6 separate regions of the Homo sapiens genome follow, and all the other regions are reported to be linked to region 2. Evidence: microRNA targets listed by miRTarBase, many of them from high-throughput screens and not tested one by one. Region 2 holds a microRNA gene; each other region holds the end of a gene's coding sequence. Distances are from middle to middle.

Region 1 (5,089 bases), not on the chromosome of region 2:
ACATCTTCCCCGACCTCTTCAAACGGGCCGCCGAGCGCCTCCAGTACGTCTTCGGGTATAAGCTGGTGGAACTTGAACCCAAGAGCAACACTTACATCCTCATCAACACCCTGGAGCCTGTGGAGGAGGATGCCGAGATGAGGGGTGACCAAGGCACGCCCACTACGGGCCTCCTGATGATCGTCTTAGGGCTCATCTTTATGAAGGGCAACACCATCAAGGAAACTGAAGCCTGGGACTTTCTGCGGCGCTTAGGGGTCTACCCCACCAAGAAGCATTTAATTTTCGGAGATCCAAAGAAACTCATTACTGAGGACTTTGTGCGACAGCGTTACCTGGAATACCGGCGGATACCCCACACCGACCCCGTCGACTACGAATTCCAGTGGGGCCCGCGAACCAACCTGGAAACCAGCAAGATGAAAGTTCTTAAGTTTGTGGCCAAGGTCCATAATCAAGACCCCAAGGACTGGCCAGCGCAGTACTGTGAGGCTTTGGCAGATGAGGAGAACAGGGCCAGACCTCAGCCTAGTGGCCCAGCTCCATCCTCTTGAAAGGTGGATTCAGAGGGACCCCCGGGACAAGGGTCTGAGACCCAAAGGCACAGTTTAGAGGATTGGGGGAAGGGAGAACGAACCCAGGGAGCATATTGCTGTAAACGCTTCAATGTGTGTAGCTTTAGGATGTGTTTGCAAAGTTTTGTTTTTTTAATGTTGTGTTATTTTGCTCCAGATTTTCATCTATAAACAAAGGAGCATTTGTTTTGATTTTACTCTTTTTGGTATAAAAAATTTTGCTAGCTTAGTAAAACGAATTGGAAAACTTGACTATGATCTGGAACAGATAATGCAAGAAGGAACACATAAGTAAGTTGCTTTGGTGCCAAGAAAATAAAAAAGCTATTATCAGGTCTCCTAACTACCCCAGTTTGTAAGGAAAAATAAAAGTTTTTATAAAATTAAAAAAAATAATTGCCTATATCCTTATTATGTTAACCTATTTTATTTTTCTATATTTCGTACATATATAAGTATTATTCATGGTTCCAAGCAATGAGTGTAATGTATTTTCTCCCAATAGTAATTGTTTATATTCATAATTATTCAGCTCTGCTGCTAAACACGTAGTTCCACTTCGTTTTTTTCTTCTTGCTACTGTAGTTATTACAATAAATACTGTATTTTTGAAGCACTTAAGCATTGTGTGTTTTTTAAATCGTGGGTCATGAGAGAATTTCATGACTGGAAATCAACATCTTAAAGTTTTTGCTACATATTAAGGTCAATGCTGTTTTGTAGAAGTTGTTTCACTTTTGTGTGAAACAAAATCAGGATCATGAGGTGAAATATATTTCTCACTGTGGATCTCAAAAAGGCTTATAAAACAATAGCGTAACCATTAACCATGCCTGTTTGGGAATCGGACTGTCTGGGTTGAGATCCTGGCCCCACCATAACTAGTATATGAATTTACATAGGTTCCTTAGTTTGTATGCAGATGTTTCTTGACCTGTAAAATGGTTTTAGTCCGTGATGTGGAGAATTTTATTTGTTATTCTTTAATGTTTTTATTTTTTATTCTCCTTGGTCTGGAGCTGCCACTTTTTAAATATAACTTTTCTTTATCTTTTTTTCCAAATCATTCCTAGGAGAGCAATTCCTGGTTCAAAAGATAGTCCTCTAGTCTCACTCTATTGTATGGGGAAATATAACGTGTATGGTGAGTGTGCCCCACATAGAACATAAGAGCAGGACATAAGATCTACCTCCTAGGGAGTTAGGTATAGGGAAAAGGGTATGGGTCTTGGGGCTGTCTGGCAAACTGAATTTGAATTACGGCTCATGCTAACTTGTCAGCATGGTGGTTGTGGGGGTAGGTTTTAAGCTCTCTGAATCTCAATTTATCTGTAAAATGAGAAAAATAATAGCTATATAATAGTTTTATGCACTAAATGAACTAGAAGAGTTCATAGTCCCATTGTGTTCCTCCATTACGTGTAGCAGATGCTGTTTTTAATGCAGAGATTCAACACGTTTTATTCAGTGGGCAAATAAGTTAATTGTTTTAGGGGGAGGTGCTGCAAATTAACCTTGAAATAAGGCAAATATTTTTAACTCGGGGAAAAAAGTGAACTTCATCAACACTGGACGGAATGTCATTTAAAAGAGTCTATAGTGAGTATGGAGGAATGTGATAGGTTACTGGGTTTTATTTCATTCTGTTGAATTGGGATTTGCATTTGTTTCATCAGTGGAATATGTTTGGCCCTTACAGGCATTTCTTCTTGATCTGCATTTTATTTCAGTGTATAAACTCCTTCCTGCCTCCTGGTCCCCTTACCTCCCTGACTCAGCTTTCTCCTCCTCATGCCCTCTGATACTCGCATTCTCACCTGTATAATAAAAATTATTACCCAGCAGTCACCACCAGTTATATCTGAGGCAAAATTCCCCCCGCTTTTCTCAGAGGTGTTAGCAATTTACCATCGATAATCTTGTTTCAAATTTTAAAATATGAAACATCAGAGGCCACATCAAGGCCTTATATCTTTTCCTTCTCACCCTCCCCAGAGGTAACAAAAGTCTGTGGCTATCGGGCTGTTGTATGACTTTATAATTTTACTATACATGTATATATACATAACCAATATAGAGTTTTATTTTGTGGGCTTTCATGATTTATATAAGCGGTGTTACGTGTGTCCTTATGCAACTTGCTGTACTCACTCACCATTATGTATTTGAGATTCAGCCATGTGGATATATGTAGACCTGATTCACTCATTTTAATTGTTCTTTTATGGGGGAAAAATAACTATCCATTCCTTAATGTCTGGACATTTAAGGTCTTTCCAGTTCTTTGAGATTTGCAGGCATTGTACAGTACTTCTTTAGGCACATGTGTGAGTTTCTCCAGCCAGAAACAAATGGAGCAATCAAGGACTATTGCCAAGCTGCTCTTGAGCTTGTGTCAAGTTACACTCCCATCAACATTTTATACAGTTTTGTTTTGTTTTTGTTTACCAATCCCTCCACCTTCACCCCCTGTGAACACTTGGCCTTTTCAGTATCTTTTCAGCCATTCTGGTACAGTGTGAAATGATAATTTATTACGGTATTAACTTATACCTGTTGCTTACTAGTAATGTTAAGTATCTGCCTATCTTTTGCTCTCACTCCTTTTTGAGTGTCAGATTTCATGTCTTAGACCTATTTCTATTGATTTGTAAGACATCTTTATATGTTCTACATGTTAATCCATGGTCTGCTCTATCTATCTAGTGCAAATACCTTCTCCCACATTTTCACTTCTTTTGGTCATACAGATCATTTGACCTAAATGTGTTACGATCATTAGTGTTTATAAGAGCTACATTTGTGTATAGTGCTTTAAAAAATTCCCCTAATCCTAAAATTGTAAATATGTTTTCTGCCTTTTTTCCCTAAGTGTTCAAAGTTTTGATCTTCACATTTTATGCTTTTAATCTGCTTTTGTGTATGATGTGAGGTATGGAAATAGTTTTTGTATTTTTCCTATATGGATAGCCTAGCACCAGTTTTTCATCATTTATACTTTCCACACTGATTTATGACACTCAGTATTTTGTAGCAATGTCCCATGTATAGATAAATTTATGGCTAGGACTGAATTGGTTTATTTGCTATCCATTTGCAAATACCATACTGTAATTCTTTTTTTCTTTTTGAGACGGAGTCTTGCTCTTGTCGCCCAGGCTGGAGTGCATTGGCACAATCTTGGCTCAGTGCAATCTCTGCCTCCTGGATTCAAGCGATTCTCCTGCCTCAGCCTCCTGAGTAGCTGGGATTACAGGTGCCCGCCACCACGTCCGGCTAATTTTTGTACTTTTAGTAGAGACGGGGTTTTGCCATGTTGGCCAGGGTGGTCTCAAACTCCTGACTTTAGGTAATCTGCCCGCCTCGGCCTCCTAAAGTGCTAGGATTACAGGCATGAGCCACCTCGCCCAGCCTATAATTCTTTAGCATCATATGCCTGTCTTCTTTTTCAATTCTTAAAGCCTTTTATTTTAGTCTTTTTTGCATTGGCTGAAAATGCAATATATTATTGAAAAGAAGCAGTTACAGCAGGCTCTAAGGATGTTTCTGATTCCTTATTCTTGATTTTAAAGGAAATAATTTTAAGTTTTGCCATAGAGTGTGATGTTTGCTGTTAAGAGTTTTTTTCCCCTATAAATACCTTTTATTGGGCTATTTAGTTACCCCTTCAGTCCTAGCTTGCTTAGAGATGTTCAGAAAAAAAACTATGAATGACTTTGGATGTATATATGCTCTTTATTTACCTGCTAATATGATTAAAATGTCTTATTTACTCTGTAAATTTGTTTTTTGGGGCATATAATTTGGTGTAATAACATACAGTTTTCTGATATCTAAACATTCTTGCATTTTGGAGACAAACAGTTGTTGATAAAATTTTTAAATACATATAGCTCAAAATGTATAATTTTGCATCTTTTGACATAAGGGGGGGTTAGTCTTTAATTTTCCTATATTATCATTATTTTTGAGGTTATGCTAATTTACTTAGAGATAACCTCAAATTTACAGAAAAGTTGCAAGCCCAGTGCAAAATAATTTGTTCCCTGAACTATTTAGTTATGTTTCTTTAGTCTCCTTCCTATTGCCAGTAGTTCCTAAGTCTTTCCTTGACTATTATGACCTTCACTTGAAGAATACGGGCCTGTTTTCTGTAGAACATCCTTCAGCTGGGGTTTGTCTGCTGTTTCTTCATGATTGGATTTGAATTATGCATCTTTGGGAAGAATATCACAGAAGCAATGCTGTGTTATTTTTGGATCCTATCAGGTGGCACAAAATTTCAATTTGTCCTGTTATTTTGAAACCTTGATCACTTTGGTTAAGGTGGATTTCTGTCATGTGCCTCCACTGCAGAGTTTTCTCCTTTAAGGTAAACAAATAACTTGTGTGGAGACACTTTGAGACTTTGTATAGACCCATGGGTCTCTTATTATCATTAACTTATTATCTAATCTTTTATTATCATTACATATTTCAATACTCAAATTGTCCCTGATTTGGCCAGTGGGAGC
Region 2 (5,092 bases):
ATACATAGCACAGAACTTTACCCTCAGAGGATGCTCAGTGTTTGATGAATAAATAATGATTGACAGAGAATTTGGATTCAGAGCTCATAGTACAGAGTTCTCTGCAGCCTCACATGACCCCCAACAAACATGAATGCTACTGCTCTTAACACTACTACTGGGGAGAGAAAGAGTCCTCTGATTACTATCGTAAAAAGAGAAGGTCACTTAACACAAATATGGGACAGAGAAATGACGGGGAGAAGGAGTATGCAACTTGGCAATGATACCTAATCTCTCCCTTTAAGGGCACAAATTCCACTTCTCACACAGACACACAGACAGCAGGCATGGAGTTCACTTTAGCACCTCTACTCTTCATAAGGCATTTCAGACATTTTTTTTTCCCTTCTAAAATTTCTGAGCTAATAGGGATCCTGGAGAACATACTGTCTAGTACACTTTCCTCATTTGACCTTTGAGAAAAACAGGGTCCAGAGAGATTAGGGTAACATCTCACCCCAGTAGCTGAATCTGGGGAAAAGTTCCAGTTTCCAGACTTTAAATCCAGTGCTCTATAATGATCTGGCTGCCTCTCTGCCCTCATCAAGCTCTGCCCATCCAAAAACCTAAGGGGCACTGTCTTGCTGGATGGGCATCCTCAGCAGCTCACAGACCTGGCCCTGCTGAGGCTGTGCGATGATGATCTGCCCAGGCTGGATGGTGGTCGTGGAGCTGGTGGTCTGCTGGCCTTGCTGCTGGCCCTGGACTTGGACAGCGGTGGGTTGCTGAGCCAGCGTGAAATAGTACTGGACTGGCTCGGCAGGAGTTACAGACTGGCGCACCTCCTCCTGTTGGGTGGAAAGAGAGGCAGGTAAGAGGAAAAGAACCAACTCAGCAGCCGCCACAGTGAATTTCCACTCTTCCCCCAAACAGGCTATGTGCAGTTGCCTGCTGAATGCTGAGCTCTCCACATTTGAAGCCAAAGGAAAGTGGAATTCAAAGAGACCAGTTATGCTAAATCAAACTAAAAATAACAGATCCTATAGGCTTCACAAAACATACAGCCAATTTCTGAAGTACGAAATAATCACCCATTGCATGATAAGTTGCAAACGGGCAAATAAGTACCGTAACTAAAAACCACACACCAGCAGTGCTTGTCAGTAAATGCTGTCAAGGCCTGTGATCTGAGAACAGTGCTAATTGCAAGTGTTGGGAAGATGCTACCCAAACATCATGCCTCTCAGGCCTGGTCCCAATCTCCCAAATAGGCAGCACTCTTCTCGTTTTAGCCCCACCACTTCAAGGGGGACAGAACAGGTTAATGGGAAACAGGGCTTTTCCTGAGCTGAAATTTCAGGATCGAGAGCACTGGTAGGCAAGTACCCAGCTTTTCACAGCTTGTTGAAAGCTCTGTGGTCACTGAGGGCATGTCTATCCAGTGTCACATCTGGTTCTGGTTGTACTTAGCCACAGAAGCGCAACCCAGGGGGCCTGATGGACAGCTCTCCGCTGGGGTACTGCCTTGGCTGATTAGGGAGGTCGCATTCTGTCCGATCTGCGGAGTGGAGACTGTTCCTTCTTCAGCTGATGTTTTCCATGGCAGAAGGAGTAAACAACCCTCTCCCAGCCACCTTGAGCTCACAGCTGAGAGTGTAGGATGTTTACACACACTACAGCATGGTTATAGCCCACAGGGTCCAGGGTTGATCAGCCCCTGACCACTGACACAGAACGGCGTCTGATCCGGAGTGACCTGTGTGACACATGGTGCCCCTGCCTGGGACAACAAAAACAATAAAAACACAGAACCACTTGGGCTGGCTGAGTAAAAATATTAGCTAAATTTACTCATGTCCTTATTCAGGGCAAAGTTTGCCACGTTCCAGAAAAGAGGAAAAGACACTTCTTAGATGTACACAGACCCTGTGGATTGCCTCCAACTCCCCAAAGTAACATTTACAAAGCTGGTATTGACCCCATCCCCACACTATGTTAGGTGCCCTCAACTGTGCTTCCAAAGTACTGTCCTCACAGTATACATTTTTGCACTTGCATGTCAAATTAACTGTCTGTTCTACTAAAATGTTAAGCACCATGAGGGCAAAGCCTAGCTCTCTCTTGCTCTCTGCTATCCCCCGCGTTCCCAGGTAGGCACTCAGTAAGTGCGTGATGAATGATGAATGGATTTAGACAGGCAGACAGTTAGAGGCAGGAAAGTAGTTCTCTGAATCCAACTTGCTGATATGACAAATTCTCTTAAACCCAACAGCTGTTACCAATAGAAAAAAGTAGTCTCTAAACTCTCTTTTGGTACCTCTAAGACTCTGTGGCCACAGTGTGAGGAAGCAGCTAGTGTCCCCTGTGGAACAGAGCTGAGTATCCTTTGTTTGCCTGATGTCTGGGGGCTAGGATACTAAAACTAGGACTGCCAGTATCTACCCCTGAGAAACATGGGTCTCTGCATGACATGGTTACTTGACAGCCATCTACCCAGCTTAGGGAGATACCTGTAACATTCTGGGTTTCTAAGTTAATATATGAACTGACTTTTTAGGTTGATATAGTCTGTGCTTCAGACACAAATAGTTTTAACCCTCAATATGATTATGCTAAGGCAGAAGGAAAAGGAGATTCCCTTTTATTTTCATCTAGGTCTCAATTTCCACAACAATTTCAACCCCAACTTATCATCATTATAAATAAATGTCAGCCTGGAAACTAGGTATTGGCTGTGGCAAAGCTAAAATACTGATACCTTTTGCAGCCAAGAAACAGAAGCCAACTGCTCTTTGCAAAGCTATTGAAGTAGGTTCAAGGTACTTGTGTTCCACTGAGATCTCCCTTATTATTTTACAAAAAGCACAAATCACTGAAATCCAGACCTAACTTGGAAAAGCTCTTGGGTAATGAGAGGGTATACAGGAATGAGAGCCTCAGAACCAGCTGTGTAGGAAGCTAGGCAGCAGGGAGACACCTGCATTTTCTAGCCGTGACCTGTGATTGTTTAGTCTCCAGTTATCCCCAACTACAGCTGATCTAGTATTGAATATGATCTTTTTGTCAGACAAAAAGCAAACCCTTTAAAAACCCCTTCCAGAACCCAAAATATCTCTTGCCAAAAGCTGTGAGAGCAGGACAAGAGCTCCTCCTATGCTGCTTACTACATCCTCTTAAACTGTTTATGAACTAGACAGTATCTAGGACACTGAGAATCAAGTGGAGGCACCTAGGTTTGTGTTGTTAGGACAAGGCACAACTGTTCTCAAATCACTGGAATGGAAGAAGGCATATCTAAGGCTCTTCTGCATTATGAAGACTCATTCTGCCAATGGAGGTCAAGCCAGCAAGGAAATGATTATGCTTGGTTTAAAGAAATGGGTGAAAAGATAATGACATTTCAATGGGCAGGAACTTTCAACTCAATAGCTTTAGTGGGGCAGAAGTCAGGCCTCAACTACCTCCTACCTTCAAATAATCTTTACTTGCTTCTCTGAAGAACAAGCGAAACTCTCAAGTATCTTTGAGAAGTCAGGGCCTTGGACTCACAATTCAGTATTTCTGACTAGTTCCTTTTCCCAGCAGTGGGAGGTTGCCCCAAGTGGCAGAACAATGCTTTAATGACTGGATCAATCCAGAATGGGGCACTTGCTCAACTTTAGCAGTGGCCTCCCCAACTACAGGGCTTGCTCTTGGAATCTTTCCAGAAGCTGAGACTGACGAACAGTGCCAGAGAAGAGCAGCATCACATCCTAGGGCCATCTCTACAGTGTTGTGCAACCAGCCCTGACTGGAAAAAAGTACATTCGCTTTAGTAGCAAGAGTGAACTGCTGCCTCCTTCAGAAAGGGTGGGTTTTGGAGAGTAGGCGTTTTAAAGGACTTTAGGAGGTGCCAGCCAATTTGAAGCCTGGGAAAACTTCATGTCTACAGAGGATTAAAAATGCTATCTTAGAATTTCAGGCCAGCTTTCAGCAATCTCAACCTTTCAAAGGCCAGGCAGCAGCTGTCCCGAATACGATGCCAATCAATGCCTCGAACACCTACAAAGAACTAAATCCAAGCAACAAGAAGCTGTTTCAGCTAGACACACTTTAAAATCAGATGGATCATAGCATTTTGAGTCTGGCTAAGATGGAATAAGGAGCTGTATGACACCCCGAGAGACCCAGAAGCACTGAGGAATTTGGAGGAACTGACAGGATGTGACCCTTCTCTCCAGCCAGTGTATTCAGCAGGCAGCCCACAGAAAACAAGGAGTTAGCACAATGAGAGTGAGCAAGGCCTGATTTCATCACAGAGCTCACAATCTTGTTTTAAAGGGGGCTTCTGATAGACAAAAGGAGAAAACAATTTCAACAAGGAAAGCAGGTGTATGATACTCTTTGTTCTGAAGGAAGATAAATGGCCTGAGTTCTTGTTGTGACTTCTGAGAGAGGAGGGAAGGACCCCCAAGAGGAGGAATTGAGCCTGTGGGCACAAACCTGCAATGTTTCAAAGCCGGTGCGTAGCTGGGGACGACCGTGGCAGCCTGCCGCTGTAAACATCCGACTGAAAGCTCCTCTGAACACCTTACAGCTTCCAGTCAAGGATGTTTACAGTAGCAAAGACTGCCCAGAAAGAACGGAGACGCAGTGAGGCACACCCTACTCTAGTAAGGAGGTGACAGAGGGCTTGCTAATCCAAAGGCCCTCATGCAGGGTCAGAATTACAAATGTTCATTAGGATGCCCACTTCTCCTAGACTTTCTCTGACTGGTTATTAATACAGGCTGGGATGGGGAGAATGGCTGTCACTGAATGACTGCTTCTAAGGATAATATACTATGAAATAATTCATTAAAAATAAAGTTTTATATAACAAAGCAAGCAGAACAAGGCACAGCTTTGCTCCTGTGAGATTCTGCCACAATTTCCCAAGTGGCACCTAGTGAATCATGCAATCTGCATGCTTAAAACAATGAGCTCTAAAGGACAGAGGTCTATTACAATCACAATTAAGAGCTATATGCACCCAAGGTGCTGAAAAAACAACTAGTGTGACCTTTGGAGAGGGGCAGGCAGAAGAGACGGGAAGGCAGACGTTCATATTCTTTCTTGTGATTGCTTGCAA
Region 3 (5,000 bases), not on the chromosome of region 2:
AGGAAGTGGTGGATAGTGAAAATCCATCTGATGCAAAGGCTGGGTTAACTGAAAATCTGTTCTGGGATGCTAGGTCTTTCAAGTCTGAAGACTGCAGACCACATTTGGTATCAACTTTCTGAGGCTGACCTGAGAACCTACTTAAGCCATTAAAGGTTTTGAGGGCGAAAGTATTACTGAAGAGGCCAGCAGTGTACCCCTTAAAATGTATGTGTAACTTGGTCGGGTGCAGTGGCTCACGCCTGTAATCCCAGCACTCTGGGAGGCCTACACGGGCGGACCACCTGAGGTCAGGAGTTCAAGACCAGCCTGGCCAACATGGCGAAACCCCGTTTTTACTAAAAATACAAAAATTAGTCGGGTGTGGTGGCGGCACCTGTAGTCCCAGCTATTTGGGAGGCTGAGGCTGGAGAATCGCTTCAACCCAGGAGGTGGAGGCTGCAGTGAGCCAAGATCGCGCCACTGCACTCCAGCCTGGTGACAGAGCAAGACTCCGTCTCAAAGAACAAAAAAGTATATGTAATGAATAAAGCTTTAGCAATTTCCTGTTCCCAGTTCTGCCTCCCTCCCCAGCAAACTTTCTAGGTAGACCTGTCCTGTATATTGTTAGCACTAGAGAAATTACCTGTAAGATGATATCCTCAAAATATTACAAAATTAAGGAACATTCTATATATGCACAAATTGAAGAAGTCAGGTAGTTGATACTTTTAAAGGTACATAGTCAATTTAAGTGGTCAAAAGGTATTTGGCAAAACCTAATTTAACTCAAGCCCTATGCATAACGTTATTGCTGAACCACTGGCTAATGCAGCATGTACTGTATTTCACTGATTGTAATACCCTAATTAATGTCACATGGTTTAATTAGCGTTTTTTTTTGTAGTGGTACATAAAATGACGGTGGACCTTCAATCAATGGTGTTTTACATAATCCCCAACTAAGCTTTATTTGAAACACAACTTCTGACCTGTAATCTAGAAAGGGGTGGGGGAGTATGTATATGTATGTACACCAAAACCTCTCCCCCAAAGATCTAAAGCCATTCTAGGCCTTCAGCTCAAACTAGGATACTAGTAGAAAGTACAGAAAAATGGTCTAATGACCTCCCCACCTTTTGAAGTGACTGTCAAATGAGACTATTAAAAACCACTTGAAAACTTTTAAAAAGCAAGAATAGCCTGAGACCTCCTAGAAATACAGATTTAATTGGTGTAAGGTGGGGTTTGTGCAGAGTATTAAAAACGCCCCCAGGCGATTCAAAAGTATAGCCAGATTTGAGAAACACCCTTAGCTGGAAAAGAATTGAGGAGCTCTGTTTTGATGACTTTTAACATACACTCCTTAGGGCTGGCTTAAAAAAGGAGGTTAACTTACATTAGCCTCAATTCCCAAATTTTACCTAGAAATGCTTCATAAATTAGGTAATTTGGGGTTCATAAGCAAATACAGCAGAGTAGGGAGTTATCAAAATAGAGTGAATTCTTCAGCAAAGGAGGACAAAACTACCATAAGGCATTCTGGATGGTCAAAGTGCAAAAGAGGTTGGGGAGTGGAGGAAGAGACTGATGACAGGAATATTTTGCTCTTGTTTTAGCAGGCTTACCATGCACTCTTCAGGGGAAGACTGCTCTATGCCATATTACACCTTGATTCACAGCTTTACTAAATGTAGTAAAAAGCTGTAAGGAAGAGCAACCTGATAGTAAAAATTGACCCCAATGAATGGTCCTTAGGAACAGATCCTATGAGAAGGCTAACCGTGGGAATCTAATTTAGGTCTCTCAGTTTTTACACCTACATTCTGGTTTTATTGTTTTATTTATTTTTATTTTTTTGAGACAAGTCTTGCTCTGTCGCCCAGGCTGGAGTGCAGTAGCGCCATCTGAGCTCACTGCAACGTCCGCCTCCCAGGTTCAAGTGATTCTCCTGCCTCAGCCTCCCGAGTAGCTGGGAGTACAGGCATCTGCCACCATGCACGGCTAATTTTTTGTATTTTTAGTAGAGAGAGAGAGGGTTTCAATATGTTGGCCAGGCTGGTCTCGAACTCCTAGACTCAAGCCATCTGCCCACCTCAGCCTTCCAAGTGCTGGGATTATAGGTGTAAGCCACCACGCCCAGCCTGCATTCTGGTTTTATTTCCTTTTAATTGAAAGGAGTGTCTTGGTTCTGCTGTCTTATTAATCATCCTGAACAATGGCTAATAGCTTGAATGACTACTAAGACAGGAGAGCTACACACACACTATGTATTTGTACCTTACAAATAGATGTGTGGAGGCCAAATACTTCAGTATTTAGCCAACTCAATAATCATAGTCCCTACAATTTAGCAAATGATCTGCAGCCTTGCTGCTCTGATCTACAAAGCTCGAGACTTCTTCTTGTTTTTTAAAAGTAAGTGGCAATTTCAGAAATCTTCAATGGTATTTTAACTTTCTACCATGAATCTCCTTGCTGTTAATACATTGTATCACAGTTCTGGAGTAACAGGGAGGAAAAGTCCCCAAATTAAACTTTGTACAGTGTGCTCCCAGATGCTATTCTCTTGTTAAAATATTTGTTCATGGAACTATTAATCCAAAGTGCCTGCTATTTCACAAATCAGCTTCATAATATACAAAGGTTACTACTATTGAGAAAGAGCATCTGACATGCTTTTGATTTGAATAATTACTACCTCAAGAAGTGGATGAACAGGGAAAATGGTATAATATCAGGTATGTGGAAACACTCTCATGGGGAAGAATGCTACTACTTTGAGACAAAGTACCTTAGGTGAGAATATTGTTTTAGTGCTTCTATCTATAGAAGAGTTCTATGGTTCGCCAATAGTTTTTTAAGTTAATCTACTGAAAAGTACAAGTCCACAATCCCTTATCCAACCCCTTGGGCTTATTTGCATTTTGGAATTGTGAATTCTGAAGAATTTTTTAAAGCACCCAATAGCGGTCATAGTCTTATTTAGTGAATACCATAAATAGCTTCAACAATTCAGATCAGGTTTTTCTGCAAAGTGAGAGATGACAATATTCTTTTCAGTTTTTTTAAATTTTAGAATTGCAGGTTAAGAGACTGTGGACCTCTATAAATTCATGTAGGAATAGAAACAAGTCATCCGAAATTTAAGAGACCTTCCCTGAACCATCCCTCTTTTTGAAAAATTTTGACTCTTATATGAGAACCACTGAAAGTTTAAATATTAAAACAATAAATCTTTATTAAACAGTTTTCACGGCATTTTAAAATAAATTTAAAAAATAAATATTTGCATTATAGCAGAAAGTCACATGTATTGCATCAACTCACTTTTACAATTTAATGGCATGAGACAACTAAGCATCAGCACCATAAAACTGTTAAGATTTGTTTCTTAAATTCAAGGAAATAGCTCTAAAGCACTGCAGCATCAATAATTTTGAAAGCTATAACCCAGTGATTGGTGCTCATAGTAGCCAATGTTTCTTTTTATTACTGGCAACTGTGGAGACAGAGTTCTTCCAGTACTAAATATTAATAAGTTCTCTGATCGACAATCCCCCATCTATCAGTGTGTCAGGATTCACAAAGAAAAGAACTGCAGGTTATGTAGTATATTCCCTATCTGTGATTTAGGTTTGCACAAAGACACTTATTCTAGCAAAAAAGAAAAGATAGTGTTTCCACCATGCTACCTTTTTTTTCTTTTTATAGAGTCTCAGAGTAAGATTTAAATCATAATTTTTAACCTTTAAAAGTCTGTTCAAGTTCAATTACAACCATAGAAACTGTACTGGTATCAGAACATAACTATTTTATTACAAAACTTAACATTATTTACAAAATGAAAAAATAATCAAATGACTATTGCAGGCCAAAGTTAAAGGTTTTTCACTCAATGATTGAAGAAAAATTAAGCAATATTTCCATGCACTCACACCAGATCATTTCTGAAATATGCAAACTCTTAAAATTCATGTTAGTAAAACTTTAATGTATTCATAATACTTGCTATGTTTATTAGAAGATGGTCAAAAAAAATCCATGGTTCTGTACAATAATATTAACAGTTTGTTCATTTTCCTTTAATATTTTTTGGCTTCCATGAACACTCGTAGATTGAACATTCTGCAAGTAAGAATTATAATAGTACCTCTGTCACCTTGCTGAATTCATCACCACAAGAAAAACACAAATAGTTTAATGCTTTTGCACTAAACTGAATAGTTATAACTCCAAAGTTATATTAAACTGAAGCCTTCATTGTGATCAATAGCTTGGATCAGTTTAGAGCGTAGAGTTTCTTTTTCTGTATATTTTGGAAGATCCAGAAGATTAAAACAAGTATGGGAAACTGGGAGATACTCCTCACCACCTCCTGTGGACTGGATGACTAGTTTCAGACTCTTCATACCAAGAATAGGAATGCGATCACTACCTGTCAAAAATACTGCCAAGAAAGAAATCATTCAGTCAACCACTTCAAAACAAAAAGATACAGTAGCAAGTAATATTTGGTACAGTCGCTACAGCAGAGCTTCACTTTAACATCTGCTCTAACGTGTTATCTTACTTCCTAATTTGTGGAAGACAAGTTTTTTGAGACACATTCTAATTGCTCATCCACACAATATTTTTTCTTTAAAAGTATAATCTTAATACTGGCACAAAGGAAGTGCTTAATAAATGTTTGATAAGTGAGTATTTTGCCATTGCCAAAACATTTTGAGAGCCCTTTTTTGGAAAAGCCATTCAGAACTAGTTGACAAACCAAATACAAAATGCAGTTTTGATTATGATTTCTTTTTCTATTTGCTTCGTTTCTGTTATTTTTTTTAAATCAGAAATTTATAATGGGCAGCCAAAATTCAAATCATTCTTTTTTTTTTGAGACGAGTCTTGCTCAGTTGCCCAGGCTGGAGTGCAGTGTGCGGTCACAGTCACAGCAGCCTCGACCTCCTGGGCTCAAGCAATCCTCTCTACCTCAGCTTCTGGAGTAGCTGGGAGCACAGTCACCAAGC
Region 4 (5,092 bases), not on the chromosome of region 2:
CATTCCTACTAAGCTGGTAACCTGTTTGTGGAGAATAAACATTTTTCACTATCCCCATTTCTTTCAACGTACCCCTTTCAAGAGTTTACCAAACTCAAATTTGCTATGGTTCTTTCTTATTTCATGTTACATATTCAAACAAACAAACTGTATATATCTCCCCAACTGTTTCTTAATGTACTATTTTAGAACTGCTTATTCCAAGTATTGAGCCCCTCTGTGGCGTTTATGGCCTGAAAGTTAAAAAGCTGGTCACAAAAACTGAACCATCACATTTTCTCTTACTCCAGCCTGAACATACACTAGAATCCAGGGTAACAATTACACTATTTTCCTCCAAGAAAAGCATGTAAGGATGGGGTACAAGGAATAAATAAACATTAAAAGTCCCCTGGATAAGCACAGACTGACTAGAAATAATTTTTTTAAATGAAAAAAAAAAAAAAAGTCCCCTAGGCCTTGGCCAGCTGCTACTCATTGGCCACTGAAACTTGCAGTCTCAACCTCTCCACCTGTAAAATGGCATTATTATTGATTGGTTAAGGCTATTTTTAGATAATGAACTTAAGTGTTTGGTAAGTTTGAAGTTTGTACACAATTAGAGGATGAGTATGCTATCTCAGAGCATCTGGAAATAGGAATGAGATCTGTCTATGCTGTGAATGCCAGCACAAATCACTTCTAAATGCCTTATACCAAAGACTAGCCATTAATAACATTTACCAAATGTCAAGCAATTGTGCCAGCTGCTCTACTTGCATTTTTTCACTTAATCCTTACGACACTTTGAAGTAGAGAGATGTTTCTATTATCCTAATTTTATAGTTAAAGAAAATGAGATTCGGAGCTCACTTGCTGAAAATCACCCATCTCGTAAGTATTGGAGCCAACATTCAAAATCAAGTCTGCCTGTCTTTAGAGCCAGTATTCATATGACCACAGTGCCATACACTACACCTTCTTAATTTAAGAAATAAATACAAAACCACAGAATTAAAATACATGCTTTCCAGGTTAAGATGGTAGATGAAGCACGTATACCTACCTCCACTCCCTCCCAAAAATCCCATTAAATGACGGTAAAGGTTTTTGTTTTAAGATATAAACCTAAAAGGATGGAAGAAAAGAGGAAACAGGAATAAAACGTTAGAAGCTGGAAAATAGGTAGATCAACAGTAAATAATGTAGTAGACTCTGAAAAACTGAATTCTGAGCCAGCGGTAGAAAAAGAAAAAAACCCACAAGAACCCCCAAACAACAACAAAAACTCACAACCTAATTTATATCATGGAATCCCTAAAAGGCTCAGAAACTAGTGGCTTCAGGTGCCTCTAGCAATAAGGGGTAGAAGGGTAGACATTAAAATAAGAATTGGTGCAAGGTTTAAGTAATCAGATGCTCTCTGCAACTCTATGCAGCAAAACAGCCTCCATTACACAGTACCCTCTCAAAATGATAGTTTTTTTTTTTAGGCCAGGTGCAGTGGCTCACACCTGTAATCTCAGCACTTTGGGAAGCTGAGATGGGCGGATCACCTGAGGCCAGCAGTTCGAGACCAGCCTGGCCAACATGATGAAACATCATCTCTACTAAAACTACAAAAATTAGACAGGCATGGTGGTGTGCGCCTGTAATCCCAGCTACTCAGGTGGCTAAGGCACAAGAACCGTTTGAGTCAGGGAGGCAGAGGTTGCAGCGAGCCAAGATCGTCCACTGCACTCCAGCCTGGAGCAAAACTCTGTCTCCAAAAAATAAAAAGTTTATTTTCTGAAAAGGGTAAAATAGAAGGTCTCTAGATTATGGGATGCCAGGCAGTTTGGGCAGAGGTACTATACTCAAAACAGAGACGCAGTGAGCAAATACATACTGGATATTGAAACACACACACACACACCTGTCTGTCCTGAGCCTCACCACAGCCCTATTCCTTTGAATCCCAGAACGTTGGCAGGGCCTCATTCAGCACTTGGGAGATTGGAAGAGTCTTTGTTCTCTGAGCAATGACCAGCTCAATGGGAAATAACTAAAGATACAGACGCAAAAAGTTTTCTCAACAAAAATGGCCCAATAGATGGCCCTTTGGCAAAGTTCAACATCAACAAGCTCCACTCCAGGCCTTTAATCCATGTTAGTTCCCAATTTTTAAGTGTGAGCAGACAACCAAGGAAAGCATCTAACATGAAACAAAAAAAGAGAAAAGCAATTACAGATAAAATAGAATATAAAGGAAAAAGAAAACATTAAAAGTACTATTGTTCTAAAAAGAGAGCAGAAGGAAAAAGAAGGGGAGGAAATCAATAAAAACCTATAAGCATTCATTGGTGGATGCTACAAATTAATACGACTGAACTCATGGAGACAGAGTAGAATGATGGTTACCAGAGGCTAGGAAAGGTTAGGGAAGGAATGCAGGGATGGCTAATGGGTACAAAAATATAGTTAGATGTAATGAATAAGTTCTAGTATTTGATAGCATAATGGGTGATTACAGTCAATAATAATTTACTGTACATCTAAAAATAACTAAAAGTATAACTGGAATGTTTGTAACATAAATAAATTATAAATGAGGTGACAGATAATCCCGTTATCCTGATGTGATTATTAGGTACTGTATGCCTGTATCAAAATATCTCATGCACCCCATAAATATATACACTTACATACCCATAAAAAATAATAAAATTATTTTAAAACCTACAAAATTTGAGAAATAAAGATACAAGTTTCAAGTTTAAATAGGTTCACCAAGTGCCCACCACAGTGTATTAAAATAAACACACACTAAATGATGTCATCATGGAATATAAGCATACTAGGAACAAAGATCCTTGTTTCTCAGGAAGAAATACTTAGTCCCACAAAAAAATCAGGAATCAGAATGATTTCAGATTTCTCAGCAGCAACACTGAAAGCTAGAGGCTTTGCTTTAAAATTCTGAAGGAAAATGATTGCTAATCTAGAACCCTATATTCATCAAACTATAGAATAAAGACATTTTTAAGGCCAGGCACAGTGGCTCATGCCTATAATCCCAGCACTTTGGGAGGCTGAGGTGGGCAGATTACCTGAGGTCAGGAGTTCGAGACCAGCCTGGCCAACATGGCAAAACCCTGTCTCTACTAAAAATACAAAAATTAGCCAGGCGTGGTGGCACGTGCCTGTAATCCCAGCTACTTGGGAGGCTAAGGCAGGAAAATCGCTTGAACTGGGAGGTGGAGGTTGCAGTGAGCCAAGATCATGCCACTGCACTCTAGCCTAGTTGACAGAGCAAGACTCCGTGTTAAAAAAAAAAAAAAAAAAAAAAAAAAAGACATTTTTAGACCAGCAAGGTCATTCACCTCCTATGCCACCTTTCTCAGGAGGACACTGCCAGAGAAAACAGGCTCCATCAAACAAGGGAGTAAACCAAGACACTAGGTAACAGAAAACGAGATATAATAAGAGAGAAGAAAAGGAATTCCCGGACAATAGTGAAGGGAGTTCCCAGAATACAGTCACATATCAGGCATAGAGAAGGGAGTTCCCAGAATATAGCCACACACATCAGGCATAGAAGGCTATCAGTCCAGTCAGGGGCGGGTCAGAAGACTCCAGGAAACGCTTACTCAGGAAAATGAAACAGAGTACCTAATAAAGCTGATTGCTGTGAATGATTTAGATAAATGGCAAAAAGTTTAGTTGATTTAGTGGAAATTCCATAGAAAAACCAAGCCTAGAAAAAAACAAAAAGATACACAGCAAAAGAAAACCAGGTACTATACTCAGAATCCTAATGATACTAATCTACTCAAGATCACACTACGTTATCCTTTGGAAGGAAGAGATGACAAGATACGTGTGAGTGATGGCGCTAAGGACAGGAAAGAGACCTAAATCCCAATCACGACCGTCACATTATTTAGAGACCAAAAGGTAAATACCAATAAAATCAGCTAAAAAGAGGTGTATGTAGTTGCTCCTGGGGAGAAGGTTAAGGACTATCCCCCCTCCACTCAACAAACTTGGAGAACTATTTGGCTTAAAAATATAGTACTTTTTCCTTTGGTAGTATTAATATTTCATATACTCAGCATCAAGCAGTAATGCTACCTTTCATTAAGACTGCCTGGCAATAAAACACAATGACACTTCATCAGGATTGGCAAATTCTCTAGTCCAAAACAAGATGAACTTACTGAAGCTTGCAATAATCTCAATATAATACAAGTCTCACTAGTGATTGTTGGTTTGCAGCAAAAAGTAGGATAAGAAAAATAGAAACCCAACTTTTCTTAATTGATATGTTTATTAAAAACATAGACTAATAATGATCCTGTGCTTAAATGTCATTGTGGTTGTGTGCTGATTTCCACAAAACATAATATAAGAGACTCTTCACAAATACACTCTGGGCAGAAGAAAAAGGTAAACAGAAATGACTGACAAGACAGTGCCATTTCAGACACAGCTCCCTTAATACTTGCTAGAAAACGGAGTTTGACATTATTTACAATTATACCAGTATTGTCAGAGGCCAAACGTCACAGGGATAAGGGTACACCAGATCACGAGACATCGTTTCATACTTCCCAAATAGTTTTATATTTTAGCTTTGAAGGTCAGTTACCAGAGCCAAACTTGTTCTTAACAAGCAGAATTTTATGTCCATTCAAAGAGTCTCTTACACCTTTCTGGGCCTATTCACTTGCAGAGAGGAGTCGAAACTGTAACCAGGCTCTTCATATCGTGCATTCATATGTGATGTCCTGTCTTCATATGCTGTCCAATTTCTTTAAGATAAATGGAGCTGAAAGAAAAACAAATCTAAAATTAGTTTTCAAATCTATTAGCCCATAGGCTACATTATAGAATTATCAGGTTTATTCAACATGTTTTTGAAAATAACTCCAAGTGATGGTCAAGCATGTGCCTGTACAGCCCAGCAAAAGGGACTAGTTGCCTTCCAAAGCAGCCCATTCCACTGTCATTCAGCTATTATTGTAAATTTCATTCTTATACTACATAAAACCTTTTCTCCAGATAGTTTGCCCCTTAGGGCCATAAAGTATAAATCCAATTCTCTTTCAAATGACAAGGCTTTACTCTAGCG
Region 5 (5,092 bases), not on the chromosome of region 2:
CTGAGAAAAGTCAAGGTTTGGATGTTCAGGAACCTCCAGTAAAAGATGGAGGGGACCTTAGTGACTGCTTGGGCTGGCCTTCCAGCAGTGCAACCTTATCCTTTGACAGTCGTGAAGCATCATTTGTACATGGTAGGCCACAAGGAACTTTGGAAATACCAAGTGAATCTGTTAAATCCAAACAGTTTTCACCATCCGGTTATCTTTCAGATACAGAGGAAAGTAATATGATTTGTCAAACAATGAAATGTCAGCGTTATCAAACTCCATACCTGTCAGAAGAAACCACGTATTTGGAGCCAGGAAAGATCAGTGTGAATTGTGGACACCCATCTCGTCATAAGGCTGATAGATTAAAGTCAGATTTCAAAAAACTGAGCAGTACATTACCATCTTCAGTGTGTCAGCAGCCTTCAAGAAAATTAATTGTTCCGCTATCTAGCCAACAAGATAGTGGCTTTGATAGCCCATTTGTTAATCTAGACTAATTATGGTACAGTATTTAAGAAGAATCATTAATATATTAACAAAAATGGAAGGGAAGACCTCATACTGAAAAAAATTGTGAGCCCTGCCTCTTTTGAGATGTTTTAATAACATCTGTTATATAAGTAAAGCATTCTTCTAAAATTGCTTGAGATATTTATGTTGCCTTAATATTCCAAAGGCCTGATGGTGTATGTATAATCTGCTTTTGTGTGGTGCTTATTTTTGGTTTCTAAACCATCTATTTTTATACTTATAAATTGACTCACTCTGCAGTGTTAACTTATTTAAATAAACTTGCATATGGTCTGTAGAATTGTTATGAATTATTTTGTGGTTCAGAATACAGAAATGTCATATTGGCATCATGTTTGAAATTCACCCAGAAAAAAACATAAATTTTGATTATTTGTATGTGTTAGTCAGATTTAGTTTTTGAAATTAGTCATGTTTAATGAGGCTATGAACTTAATCTACATAGACTTTTCCTAGCAATATCTACTCAAAATTTTGATCTTTTTTTCAGTTAGAGGTTTTCCAGGGTTTACTACAAAATACATAGCTATGTCCTGGTTTTATTATTTAAATATTAGTCTGAATTTTTTTAGTTCTTACTTGCATTATTTCAGATCATCTGTGACATCCAAAAACTTTGTCTCTTTTATGGCTTCACATTTGTTTTTTCATCTGAAATACGACCTTTTGAAAAATTGAGATAAGTTTTGTCATGTAGCAAAAAATGTAAAACGATTAGATTTTTACATTCATTTATAGTGCAGAACTGGCTAATTAATGCTCTAGGTTAAAGGTTATAATTCTAAACTGAAGAATACATGCAGAAATGAATGACTACCTAAATATCATTGTTTTTAGGTGAATTCTTTTTCAGATCCCTAGCGATGGGTATGAACATTTAGCTGTATGCAAGTGCTTCCGAAAACAGTTAACTATAGCTTTCTCTCACATCTCCCACACCTACTATATTATGGATTGTATTTGGGGGTTAATCTAGTGTATTTTTCCACCCAGAGCCAGATAACTTAGGTGGTGATGGGGAGACGGCAAGATGCATCCTCCTCCTCCTGATAACCATCTCTAAAAGCAAGAACCGAGAAGGAAAACTTTTTGGGCTTGGAAAGCTCTGTCACCTTAACTCTTGACCAGGGATAAATAAGTCTAAAAATTGGTCCTGGACTTCAGTGCTTGAATTCACATACAGCTATAGTAAGGAACAAACCATCTTGTCAAAGTCTCACTTGTATTCCTGAAGATACAATGCTCCTTCTCCAACAGTTAGGCTGTCATCTCTCACTCTAGAAAAAAACTCTAAAACAGCCAAGTTTATGCTCCCTATGGATCTGGTTGGTGCTTGATCGTTTTAAGCCCTTGTTTTTAGTAAACTTAGAATCTAGGCTCGTTGCTCACCTACCTTTTCCACTTGGTTCAAAATCCATGTCAGTTATTTAAACTCTCAACATTAAGGTTGAAATTGGAAGTTCTCTTGCTTTCTGCTCCTTTTAGAGTATCCTTAATCTTTTTTGATACTCATAATCTCAATAGGATTAAGTTACTTTATGTCATACATCCTATATCCAATTGGTTGGAGATAGGGTGTGGTATAGGGTGTATGACAAGGTAACCTAATTCTATTATGATAAATATGAAGGTATCCACTTATTAGTGTGCAAATGAAGGGACTACACAGCCAAACTATGACTAGTGGTGTACATTGGTTTGAAAGGTCATGGCAGAACAAAAGGGAGGCAGGAGCCCTGTAGATATCATGATCACATAAATCTCACTTTGTCATGATATTTAGCCCTTTTTTTAATGTTGCTGGATTTTTATTTTATTTTATACTTTGTTAAAGATTTTCATGTGTATGTTCTTGAGAGATATTGGTCTCTTGTTTTCCCATGCTCTCTGTCTTGCTTTGGTAAAAGGGTAATACCAGTCCCATAGGGTGAGTTGGAAAGTGTTTCCTTGCCTGTGTTTTCTGAAAGAATTGGTGTAGCATTGGTATTACTTCTTCTTTATATATTGGATGGAGTTTACTAGGTGAAGGCATCTAGCCTGGGCTGGTGGTGGGGGTGGTGCAGAAGTGTGGATTTTAAGTAATGTATTTTCTTGTTATAGAGCTATTCATAATTTCCATTTTTTCTTTAGTCAGTTTTGGTAGTTTTTGGTTTTTGAGGAATTTGGCTATTTTATCTAAATTGTCTAATTTGTTGACACAGTTAGCCATAGTATTCTCATAATCCTTTCATTTCAGTAGGCTTGATAATGATGTCCCCCTTTCATTCCTGATTTTGGTATTCTGTGTCATCTCATTTTTTTCTTAGTCTATCTAAAGGTTTATCAGATTAGTTGATTTGTTTTCCCCCAAAGAACTTTTGGGTTCTTCTCTTTTCTCTTGTTTTTCTATTGCCAATTTCATTGATTTTTCCCTCTTCCTTCTGTTTGCTTTATGTCTAATTAACTGTTCTTTGTTCTTTTTTTTAAAATTTATTTATTTTTGAGATGGAGACTTGCTCTGTCGCCAGGCTGGAGTGAAGTGGCGCGATCTTGGCTCATTGCAACCTCCGTCTCCCGGGTTCAAGCAATTCTCCTGCCTCAGCCTCCCGAGTAGCTGGGACTACAGGCGTGTGCCGCCATGCCCAGCTAATTTTTGTATTTTTAGTAGAGACATCGTTTCACCATATTGGCAAGGCTGTTCTTGAACTCCTGACCTCAAGTGATCCGCCCACCTCCGCCTCCCAAAGTGCTGGGATTACAGGCATGAGCCACCACGCCTGGCCCTTCATCGATTCTTAAAGTGAAAGTTTAGATTATTGATATGAAACTGTTCTCTATTGATATAGATGTATAAAGCTCTGAATTTCTCTCTAAGCACTGTTTAAGTTGCACCTCATATGTTTTGATATGTTGTATTGTTGTTTTCATTTAGTTCAAAATATTTTCAAACTTCCCTTGCGATTTTTCTTTTGACCCACAGATTATTTAGAAGTATGTTACTTCATTTCTAAGAATTGCAGATTTTCAAAGTTTCTTTCTTATTTATTTTTAATTTACTTGTTTTCAGATAATATACTTTGAATGATTTCCATCCTTTTAAATTTCTTGAGACTTGTTTTATGGCCTGGCATATGGCCTATCCTGGAATGTTTCACATGCACCTGAAAAGAATGTATATTCTGCTCTTTTTGGATGGAGTATTCAAAAATGTCAGTTCAAGTTGGTTGATAGCATTGTTCAAGTCTGCTATAGCCTTGCTGATTTTATTCCTATTTGTTCAACTGGTTATTAAGAGTGAGATATTGTAATCTCTGGCTGTAATTGTTAAACTTTTTTCTTTCAATTCTGTCAGTTCTTGCTTCATGTATTTTGAAGCTTTGTTGTTAGGTATATATACCTTTATATCTGTTATGCCTTTCAGATGAATTGGCCCTTTATTATTTTAAAATATCCCTCTTTGTATCTACTATATTTCTTGTTTTAAAAGTCCATTGTGTCTATAATTACTACAGCCACTGCAGCTCTCTTATGATTACTGTTTGCATGGCATGTCTTTCTGTTTTTTTCCTTTTAACCTATTTGTATCTTTTAATTTGAAGTGAGTCTCTGGAAGACAGTATAGTGCTGGATGTTGCTTTTTTTTTTTTTATCAGAGAAGCTTTGATTGGAGTTTTTAGGTGCATTAAAATTTACTACAATTTTGTTAGGTTTGCATTTTCCATTTTGCTATTTGGTTACTGTGTATCTTTCGTTATTGAATTGCTCTTTTATTGCCTTCTTCTGCATTAAACAGATATTTATGAGGGTACCATTTTAGTTTTTTTAACCTTTTTTTTTTTAGCTATTTTTCTAAGTGGTGTCTCTACTTATCATAGGTATCTTAACTTACTACGGCCTACTTCACATGAATATTGACTAACTTCTGGTACAATATAGCAACTTTGCCCCAGTTTAGCTTCATTTCCTTGCCCCTCCTTTGTGCTATTATGTCTTATATATGTATGTGTGTATATATATATATATGTATATGTATATATGTATATATTACAGTGTTATAATTATTGCTTTATACAATAAAGCAATATGTCTTCTAAAGAATTTAATAGAAGAAATGTATATTTATAGTTCTTTATATTTACTGACGTAGTAATCATTTCTGCTGCTCTTTCTTTGTTCCCATGGATTCTAGTTGCCAGGTCTGTTGTCATTTCCTTTCATCTATATTCTACTTCCTTTAGTATTCCAAGTAAGGCAAGTATGCCAGCAACAAATTCTCTCAGTCTTTGTGGATTTTGGAATATATTTCAAATTTATATATGAAGGACAGTATGTGATATATTTAGAGTTCTCGGTTGACTTTTTTCCTCCAGCATTTTGAATATGTCATTCCACTGCCTTATGGTCACCACTATTCATGATGAAAAGTCAACTGTTAATCCTGTTGTTCTTTATATATGATGAATTGTTTTTCTTATACTGTTTTTAAGATTTTCTCTTTGGCTTTCAACAGTCTGAGCATGGTGTGTCTAGGTCTGAATTTGTGTTTATCCTACTTAGAGTCTGTTGAGCTTCTAGGATTTCTAGATTTATC
Region 6 (5,092 bases), 74 Mb from region 2:
AGGCCAAGGCGGGCGGATCACCTGAAGTCATAAGTTCGAGACCAGCCTGGCCAACATGGAGAAACCCCATCTACTAAAAACACAAAAATTAGCTGTGCATGGTGGTGGGCACTTGTAATCCCAGCGACTTGGGAGGCTGAGGCAGGAGAATCGCTTGAACCCAGGAGGTGGAGGTTGCAGTGAGTTAAGACAGTGCTACTGCACTCCAGCCTGGTTGACAGAGCAAGACTGTCTCAAAAAATAAAAATAAAAAAATAGAATTAGAGGTTATCGCTAACTAAATCACTTTTGCTGTACCTCTGTGGAGATGAATGCAGTAGTGTTGTTAATCACCATCTTCAAAGGAATCTGCATGGTTCCCTCCTTCTTTGTATCACTAATTTTAAAATTGAAGGCAGATGTTTCTTCCTTAGCTGCAAAAGGAGGCTGAGAAAACATTACCTGGTACTTTCAAATTCTTTAGGAGGAAGAAATGCTCTGCCTCATTAGGTGAGGGATTCCTTAAACACAGGAGTTAGGATACTGGGCAGCCAAAAGAGAAATGACAGATGTCTGCTACAGCCCATTCTCTTGGCCATTCAATGTCAACACACTCCTTCAGCTAATTCTTCCAAAACTATATTCAAGGGGAAAGGACTTGACAATATAAAGTCACAGACATGTCACAGTCACAGACACTGTTAATTGCTTTCTCAATATTCTTTCTTCTTGCTAATACTGATTTTATTTGGGACAGCTATGTACCCTGCTTTCTTTGCAGGTACCAGTGGCCATTTAACTGGTCAGGCAATTAAGTCAAGGGAAAATCCATTTGGGATTTCTGAGAAAGCTTTGCTTTCCCTCATAAAAGGCGATATATATAGCTGGCACAGGCCATTTCCATTTTTTCTTCCTTGCCTTCAACATGGCCATGACATTTGGCTTGGCAACAACTTTCTAGCAAACACAAGAAAACAGCATGAGGGATGTAAGCCAATATGGTAAGGAGGCAGATTTGAAAGACAGAACTGCACCTTTTCCTGTATATAGTAAGAGTCACTGATTAAACATTATTCCTTTCAGTTGAATCACACATACTCTCAGCTACACCATTCTAGAAAATAATATCTCATTAGTTAAGACTCCATTTATTGAATTCATAATACTTTATAAGCTGTGGTGTTTCTTTTGCACTAATAAAAATAGATTTTGCTAATCAAGAACCACTTGAACTCCCAACAGTATTTGGCATTTAGGCATCTCAAGTTAGTTAGTGATTAAAAATGTGCTTAAGACTCTGTCTGGGTTTGAATCTTGGTTCCAGTTTGGACAAATAACCACCTCCTTGTGCCTGAGTATCTGCAAAATGAGGTACAGTTAAAATGGAGTTTATATAATACAGTACCTGACAGGTAGTAAAGCACTCAATAGATGGTAGCTATTATTGGCAATACCATACATACTTTGCTTTTGTGGCACCAAAGTTTTCTATTTCCCTCCTACCCATTTATTATCTCTATTGAATTCTCAAGTTTAAAGTCCCTCTTCTGTATCTTATACATACTATAATGGATTTATCACACTGCATTATAATTTTATATATATACTTGTCTCCTGTACCAGACTTTTTCATTTTTAAATTCATAAGTACTAATGAAGTGGTTGGCACATAGACTATTTTCTTTTTCATCTTTTAGAGTGCTAACTATTACACAATGGGGCCTAGACTAGATATTTTAAAATCAGTGTCTTTAGGAATTGTTTGAGATGATTAGAATACAAATTCTTGAACTTCATCACCAAGTTTCTATTTCAGTAGGTCAGGGAAGCACATTTTGAAGAACACTAAAATAGACCTTCAATGTTTGAATCCAATTATGCATAAGGTATTAATATAAGAATTATACATAAGATATTGATATAATACTACACTAATATAAGGTACTATTTGTAGAGTTATACACTGCTGAATATACTGTGCTAATTACAAAGTATTTATGACTCTTGTGAGGACCACTTGACAAGGTTGCTATATATATGTAAAAAAACCCTCTGCACTTCCTCATTTGACTTACTACTGAGTAAAATTAGCTTATCTTCTCAAAATGCAGTTTTTGTTAGAAAATATAATTTTGAACTAAGATTTTTGCAAACCAGGCAAGTTCTTCATCCACTCAAGGAGAAACTTTAAAATCCACTTAAAATGAAGAGCATTCCTCCCCGACTCAATTTTCTAACTACATATTATCTTCATAGCATTAACACCAGCCAGAATTTATATTATGTAGAGCACTAAAAGCTTCTTAGACTTGTACCTCAGGCTTTTAATTTTGCAGGGGGAAAAGTTAGTATGTCGATTTATCCTAACACTTGAGATATAAAGAACTTTATAAACAGCTCTAAAGGAACATAAAGCACATAAAGGGACACCATATTATACCTTGATTTGATTACTTCATCATTTTCACTGAAATCTGGCCATGGTAGGTTTGGCCGTGGCTGCCAAATGGTATAGAGTACCTGCCTCTTGAATGGATTTATGGGGTCACTTAAGGTATACTTCGAGGCAGATGGCTGGGCTAATAGTTACTTACTTACTCTTGGGAAATGAAATAAAAAATGCTCACACTTGGAAGTGTTTTTTTTGTCAAATTCTATGCAGGATATCAAACAGAAATTTGAAAAATTCTTAAATGACATATACCTATTCATTAACACCCACTGCTCTAGATGACATCCATTAGTTATTACTGGGATCAGATGCTTTTAGGACATCTTTAAAATATTTTGTTATTTTAACTGTAGTTCTTTATAGCATTACGAAAGAAATATCACTCACATAAAGCACTAACAACTCTTTTTAGTACTGTGTCTCTCCCATGCAGTATGGTGCTTAATGTTACTGGAAAATATTGACAGGTTTAGCATTATTTCAACTAATTCTGGGCAAATCTAAATAGAATAGTATAACATGAAGAAATTTATAAATTTGAAATGTGAGTAAACTGGGACGGGAATGAGTTGATGAGTGAACCCAGTTGACCACTGGGCATTTGAATCTCAATGTTGCCTACACAGCATTATGAGTGTAATAATTTTCATTAGGTAACAAAACTGCTTCCTCACCTTTTTATATAGCTTAAACAAAAAAAAAGAAAAAAGATAAAAAAAAACCCTGCTTCTATGTAAACAAAAAAAAAGAAAGCCAACTATTAGTGCTAGGAATGAAAGACATCCAATCCAAGTAAGTGATGGTTCTTAACTATAAAATGGAAATTGTATAAAAATTAAAATAGAATGTAGAACTAGTAGGATAACATTGAAAAACTGACTACTTATATTTGTTTTTTTTATTTTGTGTGTGTTTTTGGCTGATTATATTTAATAAAAGCTACTTTTAGTATTTGAACTAAGTGCACATGTGTGCATTCACATACACAGGACAAGCTCCTCAGCTTTGAACAATATGAACTTTGGACAATATGACAACTATAGCATCACTGGGCAAAAAAAATAGCTGACTTATTTCCAAGTGTGTTTCCTGGGACTAGCAGTAGGTTCTCTCAAATTAAAAGTAAAGGCACCAGGCTATAAAGTGCCAATTCTTAGCACCAGAGAGACTTAAAATGTCACAGGTGAATGACATTACAAATCAGAGAATCTGCTGATCTAGTTCTGTGGAATTGTATTATTTTTGTCAAATGGAAAAAAAAAATCAAGGTTTATGCCAAATAGATTTAAACAGTTAAATCTTTCCTAAAATTTCCTAGAAGTGTATTTTACAATGCTATGTAAAATAAATTGCTGGCTTATAAAAAATGCTCAAAGTTTCAGAGATGTGAAAAATAACAAAGAACTGAAAACATAGTTTATATAAATCAAGGTCCCAGAAATGAAAATTAAAAGTAGTCTCTTTGAGAAAGGAATGGTGAAATTCAGCATGTAGTATTCACATTAACACATCTGAGAACTGTGGACAGCCAATATTGACTGGAATTCTAAATTGCCACCTGATACCTTTAATTAAGATTAAATCAAATCTGAGGCAAGACACTTAATGGACAGTACTTGAATGGGAAGACAGTAACTTCCTTCCTTGATAGACAATCTCCAGCCATCATTCAGAGTTCAGTTATTTGATGGCTTGGGAAGCAGTGTCCATTGAGTTTTCCTTTCTGGCTTGAAGAGACTCACTGCTGATGGACAATAATTCTCGAAGTTCCTTATTTTCAAGCTGGAAAAAAAAAGGCATGTTTATTTCTGGTATTTTTACTGTCCAACTGCATTACAACAACACATTATTTTGAGCCAGGAGCAGAAAACATTATTTTAATTTTAAAAAATTTATGGAAACAAAAAATCCACTAGTTGAGAATTTCCTTAAATACTACTTTATTCATTTAACAAACATTTACATGTAGGATGTAGGCAATGATACTCTTTTGTAGTAGTAATTTACTGAGTAATTTCTATATACCAAGTGTTAGGATTACAAAGGAGAAACAAAAAACAAGGTCCTCTCCATTTAAGGAATTCACTGTTATATTCTTCTTGGTTCCCACAGTTTTACTATTATTTCTTTTATTTAAAAAATTCCTAATAATCGTTTCACTCTGATTAATCTCCTCTCCTGGATATCTTACAGTTCTAGAGAAATGGAAGGAAAGGGGGAAAGAAATTACTTATTGAGCATGTAGCTGGGTACTACTTGGGTGCCCTGTATATGTTATCTCACAATAATCTGTAGGGTAGGTATCATTGCCTACATCCATATATTTCAGATGAGGATACTCTGGCTCACAAAATTCCTAAAAGTTGTCCAAATTCAGACAACTTGGATGTGGTATTGCTGGGGTCTGAATCTGGTGGTCGTGTATTTTCTACTTGAAGTATTAAGGTAGAATTTGCCCCACATTTCCTTAGGGCTGTTTCCGTAAGTGAGGTAAATCGGGGATAAATAGAAGGTCATGCTATCATTTCACTAGCTCCTAATTCCTACTTGGGACCTGTCACTACCTTTGATTTCTAGAGAGGGTAGCTTCTGCTCTTCATCCTTATCCTCTGCAGAAAACTCTGGTAAACCAAAGCATTTTTAGCTTCACCAAGATGTGCG

Evidence for each region. The annotated mature microRNA hsa-miR-30c-5p reads UGUAAACAUCCUACACUCUCAGC and lies in region 2 at 1,629-1,651, opposite strand. An mRNA with a match to its seed (bases 2 to 7 or 8) in the 3' UTR can be bound and repressed. Matches are read on the target gene's strand: a 7mer-m8 pairs with bases 2 to 8, a 7mer-A1 pairs with bases 2 to 7 and ends in A, and an 8mer does both.
Region 1: the mRNA of NSMCE3 is a reported target of hsa-miR-30c-5p. Seed matches in the 3' UTR shown: 7mer-m8 at 3,017-3,023.
Region 3: miRTarBase lists HERC4 as a target of hsa-miR-30c-5p. The part of its 3' UTR that is shown has no 7-base or 8-base seed match.
Region 4: miRTarBase lists TOMM5 as a target of hsa-miR-30c-5p. Seed matches in the 3' UTR shown: 7mer-m8 at 4,408-4,414.
Region 5: miRTarBase lists CEP152 as a target of hsa-miR-30c-5p. The part of its 3' UTR that is shown has no 7-base or 8-base seed match.
Region 6: the mRNA of SIKE1 is a reported target of hsa-miR-30c-5p. Seed matches in the 3' UTR shown: 8mer at 3,164-3,171.

The regions. Positions count from the first base shown.
Region 1 is chr15:29,264,256-29,269,344 of GRCh38, reverse strand. NSMCE3 (NSE3 component of SMC5/6 complex) reads left to right here. Exons shown (of 1, transcript NM_138704.4): 1 at 1-4,356. The coding sequence ends at 554. All of the region lies in intron 2 of ENTREP2 (endosomal transmembrane epsin interactor 2), which reads left to right. Among named protein-coding and RNA genes, the nearest start is that of NSMCE3, 3.0 kb to the left of the region's middle. RefSeq lists an enhancer at 1-228.
Region 2 is chr1:40,753,859-40,758,950 of GRCh38, reverse strand. MIR30C1 (microRNA 30c-1) reads right to left here and starts at 1,667; the gene lies at 1,579-1,667. NFYC (nuclear transcription factor Y subunit gamma) reads right to left here. Exons shown (of 10, transcript NM_014223.5): 6 at 657-830. MIR30E (microRNA 30e) reads right to left here and starts at 4,596; the gene lies at 4,505-4,596.
Region 3 is chr10:67,918,711-67,923,710 of GRCh38, forward strand. HERC4 (HECT and RLD domain containing E3 ubiquitin protein ligase 4) reads right to left here. Exons shown (of 25, transcript NM_015601.4): 25 at 3,195-4,429. The coding sequence ends at 4,221. Among named protein-coding and RNA genes, the nearest start is that of SIRT1, 37 kb to the left of the region's middle.
Region 4 is chr9:37,584,144-37,589,235 of GRCh38, forward strand. It overlaps TOMM5 (translocase of outer mitochondrial membrane 5), which reads right to left. Exons shown (of 2, transcript NM_001001790.3): 2 at 4,270-4,789. The coding sequence ends at 4,755. Among named protein-coding and RNA genes, the nearest start is that of TOMM5, 5.9 kb to the right of the region's middle.
Region 5 is chr15:48,733,645-48,738,736 of GRCh38, reverse strand. CEP152 (centrosomal protein 152) reads left to right here. Exons shown (of 27, transcript NM_001194998.2): 27 at 1-799. The coding sequence ends at 488. Among named protein-coding and RNA genes, the nearest start is that of CEP152, 75 kb to the left of the region's middle.
Region 6 is chr1:114,770,160-114,775,251 of GRCh38, forward strand. It overlaps SIKE1 (suppressor of IKBKE 1), which reads right to left. Exons shown (of 5, transcript NM_025073.3): 5 at 1-4,213. The coding sequence ends at 4,112. Among named protein-coding and RNA genes, the nearest start is that of SIKE1, 8.0 kb to the right of the region's middle.